2 separate regions of the Homo sapiens genome follow, and region 2 is linked to region 1. Evidence: fine-mapped expression QTL. Tissue or cell type: esophagus mucosa. Region 1 holds a variant in brackets; the other region holds the start of a gene. All regions are shown on one strand. Distances are between the middles of the regions.

Region 1 (5,144 bases):
CTCCTTCCCCCACCCTCCCCTCCCCTCCTTCCCCCACCCTCCCCTCCCTCCCCCCGTCCCCTCCCTCCCCCCGTCCCCTCTCCTTCCCGCCCTCCTCTCCGCACCCTCTCTCCTCCCCGCCCTCCCCTCCCCGCGCCCTCCCCTCCCCGCGCCCTCCACTCCCCTGCCCGCGCCCTCTCTCCTCCCCGCCCTCCCCTCCCCTTGCCCTCCTCTTCCCTCCTCTTCCCTCCTTCCCTCCTCGCAGCCCCAAAACCCGCGACCCCTCTCCGACCCCTCCCGGCGCCCTCCCCTCCCCGCACCACCGCACCTTCCCATCTCCCACCCTTCCCAACGCCCGCCTCGGCAGGGATGCGGCCCTAAGACTTGCAGGAAGCGCGGGTTCGACCCCGGCGCCCTAGCAACCCCTGCCCTCGCCGCTCTAGAGAGCGGGTCTCCTGGCCGGGCCCTCCTGGGTCTCCGTAGCCGCGATCGCCAGACGCGGCGAGCGGAAGGGCCCAGCCCCGCCCTCTCCGGGCACATGACTCGGGCCTGGCCATTCACAGTGCAGCATCGTCCAGCCTTAGTGATTGGGCCATCGGAGAGCACGTGACAACAGCTAGGCCAATTAGAGCTAGGCCAATTAGAGACCACCCGTTTCTATTTATGGTGGAGCCGGCGATCGGCGTGCGGTTGGAAGTGGTGTCCCTGAGGCACCTGCTCGCCCTTTTCCTGCGCCTCCGCAACGTCGGCTGCGAATGAGTCTCCTAAAGGACGCCCGGGAGGATCGGAAACAGCCGAGTCCCGGCGCGGGCAGTGTCCTGCGCTCCTCCCCGGGGTCTGGCCGGGGTGGGCCCGAGGCCCCCGGGCCCCCGGTTACCGCCGCGGGCGCGTCTGCGTCCTGACCCGGAGGGACCCGCGGGCCGGGCCGTACCAGGTGGCGCTGGGGTTAGGGTTGCCGCCACGGAAGCCCAGCTCTGTGGACGCCTGCAGGGCGCCCTCACCGCCCGGGACGGGGGACCCAGCCCAGCCGCAGGGGAAGGACTGGGGCTCGCGGGGACGGAGGGCGGTTAGGATTGCTGGATACAACACGGAACGCCCAATTAACGTTTTTGTTTAACGTGTTTTTTGTAGAGATGGGGTCTCGCTATGTTGCCCAGGCTGGTCTTGAACTCCTGGCCTCAAGCGATCCTCCCGCCTCGGCCTCCAGAGTAGCTGGGACTAGAGGCCTGAGACAGCACGCCCGGCTCAGTTAAGATTTTAAAACAGATTTGTTGAAATATAATGCACTTACTGTGAAATTCACTTATTGAAAGCTTATGGCTTTGCCGTATATTCGGAGATGGGCGGCCATGCTCACTATCTCATGTGACACCGTTTCTGTTGCCCCAGAAAGAAACCCCGTGCCCATGAGCGTTCACTCCCCACCCTGCCCACGGCCCAGCAAATCTGCTTCAGCCCCTATAGATTTACCTCTACCGCGTTGGGCATGTACTAAAAATTGTTTATCTGAAGTACAGATTTATCGGCATCCCATATTTTTATTTGCTAATTCTGGCCATCCTAAAGGTGGCATCGCTCGCTCTGACCAAGGAAGCCTCAAGCAGGCAGGCACGAGAGTCCATCCCTAGCCCTGCCTGGCCCCTCAGAGCCCATCCCTGGCCCTGCCTGGCTCCTCAGAGCTGTCCCTGGCAGGCTCCGGGCTCAGGTGCGCTGCCAGGAGGGGGGCAGTGAGGGCTGTTTTAGGTATAACAATCCTGGATATTTCCTGAGTATCTTGTCCGAATGGTTCCTCTTTCTGTATTTTCTAGCTTCCTCTGTATATTTAAAAATGGTCTTATTGGTGTGTTTCTTCACGACATTTCAATTTTTTGTTATCATTTCCCACAATTTCAGTGATGCAAGATGGTCCTTTCTGAGCAGAGCTCCCCTCGCTCAGTGCTCCTTTGTTTCACGTAGAAGATCTTCTTGAGGGGACTGTGTGGCCAGTGCAGCCCAGGCCTCCCCACCCTGCACCGTTCAACAGAAGAGCAGCTGACGCAGGGGGCCCTCAACATGCTCACCCAAAAGTCAGCGAGATTCTGCACCGGCCCACTAGCCTTCCAATTGTAAACTAAAAATAAAATCTTGGCCAGGCACGGTGGCTCATGCCTGTAATCCCCGCACTTTGGGAGGCAGAGGCAGGTGGATCACCCTGAGGTCAGGGGTTCGAGACCAGCCTGGCCAACATGGCAAAACCCCGTCTCTACTAAAAATACATAAAAATTAGCCAGGCGTGGTGGCACACACCTGTAATTCCAGCTACTCGGGAGGCTGAGGCAGGAAAATCGCTTGAACCTGGGAGGCAGAGGTTGCAGTGACCTGAGATCGTGCCACTGCACTCCAGCCTGGGTGACAATGAGACTCCATCTCAAAAAAAAAAAAGAAAAAAAAATCCTAAGCCCCCCAACTACTGAAAAGACCCCTCTTGGCCAAGGGGTCCCAGAGACACCTTAAAAACTGAGTTTCCAGCCAGACGTGGTGGCTCACACCTGTAATCCCAGCATTTTGGGAGGCCAAGGCGGGTGGATCACCTGAGGTCAGGAGTTCGAGACCAGCCTGGCCAACATGGCAAAACCCCGTCTCTACTAAAAATACAAAAAAATTAGCCAGGTGTGGTGGTGGATGCTTGTAATTTCAGCGACTCTGGAGGCTGAGGCAGGAAAATTGCTTGAATCTGTTTCAGTGAGCCAAGATCGTACCACTGCACTCCAGCCTGGGCAACAGAGTGAGACTCCATCTCAAAAAAAAAAGCCAAAAAACTGAGTTTCCAGCCGTGACGGGATGGTAGGTCAGAGGCACCTCATTCTACCCCCTCCCTTGTGTGGTTTAGACAGAATTGACCGGTGTTCATGTTAAAATAGAGATCATAAGACTAAGAACAGGCTCTGTGGCAATAAAATACCAAATTATAAACAGGACCTCAGGCCAGGCCTGGTGAAAGTAAGTCGTGCATCCCTGCACGTGAAGAATCAACTCTGTTCTAAAGGCCGCAGGTTTCTCTTTTTCTGTAGCAGCTAAACAAGCACTAGCCTCAAGATAAGCAGCATTGAAACAACCGCAGCTCCTCCCCCTG[C/T]CGACCCTGGCCCCACACCCCTGCTCCACCAGCCGTAACTAGAGCTTTCCTTGGACAAGAGACTCGTTTCAGTAACTTTTCCCTGATAAGAGACCCTGACCATAGACGGGTTCTGGCTGGTTTACAGAGATTGCACCCTCATGTGCCTTCATGTCCTGAAAGTACTTTTTGAGGTATACCACCTAATTGTAATACGCTTACATGCTGCCTTCACCCCAAGGTGAACATGGGTCATATGTAACATGCATGTTTATCCAGCACACGTGTCCGAATAAACATGCATGTATATTCGCAACGCCTCCTGTAACTTGTTGAGTATGTATACCTGACCAACCCATTCGGCTTACATTCCTGTCTCACCGCACCCTCCCTCCAAGTACCTGTCTCTGGCCTTAGGCTGGAGGCCACACTTCCTAGCCTGTCAGAATGGCCACCTTACAGGCTATAAGACTTTATAAGAAGTAAAGTCTCCTTTCTGAGTGTATAGATCTTGTGATTTTTAACTTAACACAATCCACAGCCGGTTTCCTTCTTTTTTATTTTTATTTATTTTTTTTGAGATGGAGTCTTGCTGTGTCCCCAAGGCTGGAGTGTAGTGGCGCGATCTCTGCTCACCACAACCTTTGTCTCCCGGGTTCAAGCGATTCTCCTGCGTCAGCTTCCTGAGCAGCTGGGATTACAGCCAGTTAATTTTTGTATTTTTAGTAGAGATGGGGTTTCACCACGTTGGCCAGGCTGGTCTCGAACTCCTGACCTCAGGTGATCCATCTGCCTTGGCCTCCCAGAGTGCTGGAATTACGGGCATGAGCCACCGCACCTGGCCCTTCTTTCTTTCTTTGGCTGGGCCTCCCGAAGAGGGTCCCAGGTGTAGAATATGGTCAGAACAGGCAAGGCTCCTCTGATTTCATCTGTTTCTTTGTTATTCAGCCATCCTTGCTGTCATTCCTCTGACTCGTAGCCAGCCCTTCCACTGCGTTTTGTGTACATGTGTTTTTTCCATCTTGAGATGGTAGATTTAAATGGCCATTGTTGTTACCACTATTAGCAAGCTAGGAACGACGGGGGAGAGCCTAACCTGCTATGGGAGCAATCAGGAACCTACAGCAACTTTTTCCTTTTTATTTTTAGATAAATGTTTTATTTTAGAATAGATCTGGGTTTCCAGATAAGATGTGAAGATAGATAGGAGGGCACTGTTGTTAACATCTGACATTAGTTTGGTGTTTGTTATGTAATTAATGAGCCAATACTGACACATTGTAATTGACTAAGGTGTGCACTTGATTCCTATTGCCTCAGTTTCACCTGCTGTCCTTTTCCTGTCCCAGGAGCCCATCCTGGACACTCAGTCCTCGGGTCTCAGGCTCCTCTCAGCTTCTCTCATGTTTGATGACCTTGGCAGTTTTGAGGAGCGCTGGCCAGGTGTGTCGGAGGGTGTCCCTCTGTGGGGATTGGTCTGATATCTTTCTCCTGGTTAGACAGGGGATATGGGTTTTGGGAGGAAGACCGCAGGGTTGAAGTCCCGTCCTCATCGCAGCCTACCAAGGGTGTATGGTCTCCACCTGCCGGGTCACAGGTGGGGCTGGCCTGGGTTACCTGGCCAATGCGGAGCCTGTCAGGTTTCTCCACCACGAAGTCCCCCTTTCCACATGGTGCCCTTGGTGGGGAAGTCAGTATTTGCAGCACCCAAGGAAGGTGTGGGGGTTAGGCTCCCCTCCTTAGGGGCAGAGTGTCTACACAAACTACTTGGAATTCCTTTGTGATTCATCTCTCCTCCCCACTTATTTATTTACTCAGTCATTTCCTTATATCGGTACGGACTTGTGGAGATTTATGCTGCAAGTTATGAGCCAACACGGTGCTGGTTTTGTTTTTCGATCACTTCTTCACCTTCTAACTATATTACCAGGGCTGCCACAGCTAAATGCCACAGCCTGGGCAGCTTAAACAACAGGTGTTTCTCTTCTCACAGTTATGGAGTCTGGACGTCTGAGATCAGGCTGCCGGCAGGGTGGGTTCCTCCTGAGGCCTCTCTGTGGCTTACAGACAGCAT
Region 2 (5,144 bases), 62 kb after region 1:
AGCCCCCGTATTGCCCGCAGTAGGCGCCCTACTGGACGCTACCGTAATTGCCGGCGCGCGGGTCCACCGGGGTCAGCGGAGCCCGGGAGCCGCGCCAGGCGTCGGGGCCTCGAAGCCACAGGGCGGGGCCGACTCCACTTGCTGCAGAGGTGGGACCAGTGGGCGCGGCTCGGGACTCGGGGGCGTCGACTCGTGAACTGCGGGTCTCGGAGCAGGAGCCCGGCGGTTCGGTTCCGTTGCGTGCGGCTGCCCGGCGTGGCCCATTTCACAGATGGGCCTGACTCGGGCAGGTGACGCTAGGAGGACGCCCTGAGCTCTGTCTGCTCCCGCCCCGCCCCTGCCCCAGGGCCCGGGCACCTCCAATGGCTCTGCGCCACTGCCCGGAAGGCCCCCGCTGGGGCCCAGAGTGTGGCCCACATTTGGCACCTCACTGGAGGGAGCGGCACAGGCCCTTCTGTCCCACGTGGCCAGGTCACCCCAGGACCCACCGCTGAGCCAGCCGAGCCTGGCATAAGGGTCACTGCAGGCCAGTAGGGGGGACCCGTCCGGCCTGACGGCTGGGCTGGGATCCATAGAGCCCTCTGGTAGCTGCCCCTCCAAAGTAAAGTGCCCCGCTCCAGTCAGTGGGGTCTGGCCTGATCGTGCAGGCCACATGGCTTTCTGGGTGGCCTGGATGGCGGGCCCTGCCCAAGGTCACATGGGGTCGTTACCAAGCCTGCCTTGAGACCAGGCCTCCAGGTGCCCACCCCAGACTCTGTCCACACCATGGGGCCCTGGGGGACAGACGCTGCACGTGCCACGGCAGAGCCCCCATGCACTCAAAGCCTCTCTGGGGGCAGACACCCCCCCACGGCCTCCTAGCACCTCCTCAGTTCCTTCCCTCCATGAGGGAGTCGAGCCCAGCCGCCTCCACACCACGCTGGCGGAATAGACCCTCCTTCAGCAGGGTCAGGCCAGCACCCACCTGACTTCCAGGCCTGTGCAGTGAAGCTGGGACCTTGGACTCCCCGGCCCCAACAGACACAAGACCTCCCACCCTTGTGCTCAGCATGGACAAGCCCCTGGGCCTTGGGGTGGGCCAACTGCCATTTCCCGCCCAGCAGGCCTGACTCTGGCCATCACCAGGAGAGGGACCCTTTCAGCCCATGCCTCTGGGACAGAGAGGAGGACAGCCGCCCCTCGGCTCCCCCCATCGTCCCTCACCGACTCCAGCCACCCCTGGAGGCCCCGGCCAGAGCTAAGGGCTTCCCTTCCACTCTGCGGCTCCTGTCTCTTGACTGGCCCAACACCCAGGGAGGCTCCTGACCAACCCACTTTTCGTATAGGGAAACTGAGGCGTGGGTTAGGAAGTGGGAGGCTACCAAAGGCTGCGCCTGGTTTTCCCACGAGCTGGGGGCCAGGGGTGGAGGTAGGGCGAACCCAGGGAGCCCAGCCTGGCTCTGGAGAGGGTCCCCCACTTCCCTGCACGGTCTCGGGCTGTTAGTCATTGCCCAAGGGCGGGTGTGGGTCGGGGAGTGTTCAGGGTGTTGCGAACAGGGGAAAGCGCCACGGCCCGAGCGCAAGTGCTCCCCACTCCCTCGGGGAGGCCACCCATACAGGGAGGGCTGCAGCAGCCCCACCAAATATAGCCCGCGCCCCCCGCCACCGCGGACCGAGCTATTTATACCCGGACCGGGCTTGGCCGCCGGCGCAGCCATCTCCTGGCCCGAGCCCAGCCCCTGAGGGCAGCCCGACGGGTGGGCGCCGGGCCGGACCGGGGGAGACGAGACTGGGCAGCCAGGTATGCGAGGGCGCGGAGGGGCGCGGCTGGCTCTCGGGAGCCCTCGGTGGGGCCCGCTCGGGGTCGAGAAGGCTAGTCCATGCCCCGGGCGCCCCCGGACCTGATGGACAAAGTGGGCGGGGTGGGGGTGAGAGCGCGGACCCCGAGGTCGCCCCCTTGCCCGGCACGGGGGAGCTCCTGGGCCCCGGCCCGCGCGCGAGCATCGCGGCCGCGCCTACCTGCCGCCGCTGGGCCGCCTCAGCCCGCCTCTCGCCGCCTCTCGCCGCCTCTGCCCGCCTCTGCCGGTCCGCTCCGCGCCGGGGGCGACTTTAAGTGCTCGGGTCGCTGGCGCGGCACGTCCCCCGCGCACGTCACCGCCTGGCGCCGCCCCTGCGCGCCCCGCCCGGACCCCGCGCCGCCTCCGGACGGGCTCCCGGGCCGCAGCTCCCCGACGGCGCGTCCCGCAACCCCGCCGGGCCCAGGGACCCCCCCAACCGGAACCGGCCCCGTCGGCGCCCCCGGCCCGGAGCTGGCCCGCCCCCTCTGCTCCTCGGGACTGGGTCTTCCCGGCCTCGCCTCCCCCGGAGTCCAGGCTCGCTTCGCCCCTCCGCCCCGCCGTCCCTCCGTTTCCCCGCCTCGGAGCGCAGCGCGGCAGGTCCCAACGTCCTCCAGGGCAGCGACCCCTCGCCCCCCAACGCCGGGGCCCCTTTGGTGGGGAGGTGCGCGCGGGTCCCGTGGGGTTCCGGCCGCCTGGCTCAGCTCCGGGGCCCACATCCTCCCTCTCTGAGGCCACGTCCGACCTGTCCCCCTTCAGACCTCCGCTTCCTCTCCGGTCCCGGTGCGGACGGCGGCTCTTCCTGGCTAGGGGAGCGGCCCGCGGCCTGCGCTGCCTGGATGTGGGGCACGGCCTCGCCCTCCCTGAACTTCCGTTTCCCCAGGTGGCTCCGCGCCCTGCGGGGCCCTACAAAGCCACCGACTCCAGCCCTGCGCCCCTGCCCCGCCCCTCTCGCGGCCCAGAACCCGACGCGGAGGCCGGGGCGGCTCCCACCTTCGGGGAGGCGAGGGCTGCCCACCCGCTGGACCTCGTGAGGTGCTTCTCCCAGCCTGTTTTCTCTCATTTGCAACATGGAAATAACGGGCCGCTTTGGGTGCTGAGGTTTGAGGTGGCTCCAGGGAGTAAGGCCTTTGTTGGCCTGGACCAAGGAGTCTAGTTGTCAGGGCCACCCTGCCAGGGCCACAGGAATGCTTTAACTGGCCCCTCCCGGACCCGGGGGCTTCGGGGACCGAGGCACTGGTAAGCCCGTGCCTTCACACACAAAGGAGGCAGGGGGTATCAATGGAGGACCCCTCCAGAGGGCAAGGGGAGGCCACCCCTGACAGTGAGGCCGTGTGGGCCTTGGCTCTCCATCTGCAGCCCAGCCTTGCGGGACATCAGGTCCAGTAAGGCCGCCTGTTCTTTCTATGTAATGTTACAAGCCCACCCTCCCGCTGGCATTCACAGAGGCTGGGTCTGGCCCTCACCCCTACCTGGGGCCCAACCACCCCCATCCCCAAACATCAAGATGAGGGCACGTGCCTGTGAGCAGAACACAGGCCTGTGGCAAGTGGTGAGGGGGCCTCCAACTTCACAGATGAAGACTCTACTTAGTTGGCCCGTGCTGCTCCCGCCCAGGGCAGGTGGTGCTCCCGCCCAGGGCAGGTGGTGCTCCCGCCCAGGGCAGGTGGTGCTCCCGCCCAGGGCAGGTGGTGCTCCCGCCCAGGGCAGGTGGTGCTCCCATCTTCCTGCACCAGGCGATTCATCAGTTTCTGAGGAGGGAGAGCAGCAGAGGGGTGCGAGGCACCGTGGACAGCTGCGGGAATGGGTCCCCTATGGGGTATTGCCTGCCGGGGAGGCGAGGGTACCGTGCTCCCCATCCCAGATTGTTGAGTCACCAGGCCTGCCAGCTGGGCTTGGGGCCCCCACTGAAGCCACCGAGACACCTTCCACATCTGCCTACAGCTTGGCCCTGATCCCTGAACCCTGAACCCCCACCGTAGAGCAGCAACAGGGGGAGGGAGACAGAGCCAGAGAGCCTGGGACCTCACTGCCCCCTCCTGCCTCCTGAAGGACAAAGGGGCGCCCCTGCCAGGGCCAGGTTTTCTCCCAGCTGGGAAGACGCCCAGTCATCCCTCCAGGGGTCCCAGGGAGCACCTGTGGTTTGGTTCTGACCCCCAGGCCTGGCCCCCTCTTAGGCATGGCTTCCCCTGGGTGTGGGCCCCAGGACTGTCCACCCAGAGCTGGGGTGGAGCCTCCCTGCCCTCAGAGGGGAGGGGAGCAGGCAGGCCAGTCAGCACTGGCTCCCAGCAGAGAGGTCAAGTCTGTGGGCTTTGACTGGGGGGACTGGAAGACCACAGAGTGGTCACAGTGATGTGATGGCTGCTGGGGGCTGGGGCTGGGGGCCTGCCAGGTTGTTACCCAGAGGAAACAGGCAGCGCAGCTATCAAGCAGGCCACTTGGGACAGCTCACCCGGAGCCTGGACAGAACAGGACGCTGTGGGGTGGGGCCAGAGCCTCCGAGACCCTGGGCCCCTCTCCGAGGATTCTGGCACTCCGGTAGCATGAGGTACCCCTGACCTCCAAGTGCTCAGCTTTTAGAAAGGCCCAGCAGTTGGTGGCGGGGGGCATTCCAGGCCTGGCACCAGGGCCCAGGTGGCCAGGCTCCATCTGACACAGGGCTCCAGGGGCACCTGGGCACGGAATACCACTTTGGTTTCGGGTAAGATGCCTTCTGGGGGTCATGCCCCTCCCTCAACAACCCTGGATGTGTCAGAGACAGCGATGGTGCAGGGGAGAGGCACTTCTGGCCATGGTGCGATCCCCTGGCCCGCTGGGGGTCTGGAGCTGCGGGAAGGGGTGGGAAAGGCCACGTGTGTCCGCATCTCTGCACCCCACTCTGGGTGGTGTTGGGAGCACCCACCCCACACCTGGCTCCAACGCTTGCTCCCCCACAGTGGCCCTGGGTCAGACCCCAGGCCCAGGCCGCCCTTTTCTGCAGGAAAGGAGGTGGGGGTGTGGACAGGTGGCACCATCCCTGGCCAGTGAGCAGCTTCACAGGACGCCCCCCTCTGACCCCACAGCCCCCAGTCTTGACTTCTCCCCCAGACCCAGGTGCCTCCACCTGCCCCTGGCTGCCCCAACTTCCTTTTGTTCCCAGTTCCAGCTACAGGGCCCTCCAGGCCCTGGAATGTCCTCCTAGGGGCCTGGCCCCCAGGTCCTTCCCACCCTGCTCCCTGGCAGGCTTAAGCTCCCTGGGGTGCGCAGTCCCACCTTTTCCAAGAGCAACCTTTGTGGGAGGGGGGCGGGCAGGAAGGGGAGGCTGGGATCTGCTTCCTCCCCATGGGCTGC

The links. PIP is the estimated chance that this variant, and not a neighbour inherited with it, causes the effect. A credible set is the group of variants that fine-mapping cannot tell apart.
Region 2: it holds the start of SLC16A3, and the variant in region 1 is the best candidate, but not a certain one, in a credible set for the expression of SLC16A3 in esophagus mucosa (GTEx, PIP 0.56).

Annotation. Positions count from the first base shown.
Region 1 is chr17:82,288,292-82,293,435 of GRCh38, reverse strand. It overlaps LINC01970 (long intergenic non-protein coding RNA 1970), which reads left to right and starts at 622. Exons shown (of 2, transcript NR_135639.1): 1 at 622-913; 2 at 1,873-3,390. RefSeq lists silencers at 687-936, 977-1,026. The variant C/T (reference allele first, on the strand shown) is at 3,092.
Region 2 is chr17:82,225,961-82,231,104 of GRCh38, reverse strand. SLC16A3 (solute carrier family 16 member 3) reads right to left here and starts at 2,063. Exons shown (of 5, transcript NM_004207.4): 1 at 1,999-2,063. RefSeq lists silencers at 1-137, 1,598-1,647, 1,658-1,817, 1,938-2,257, 2,418-2,557 and 2 more.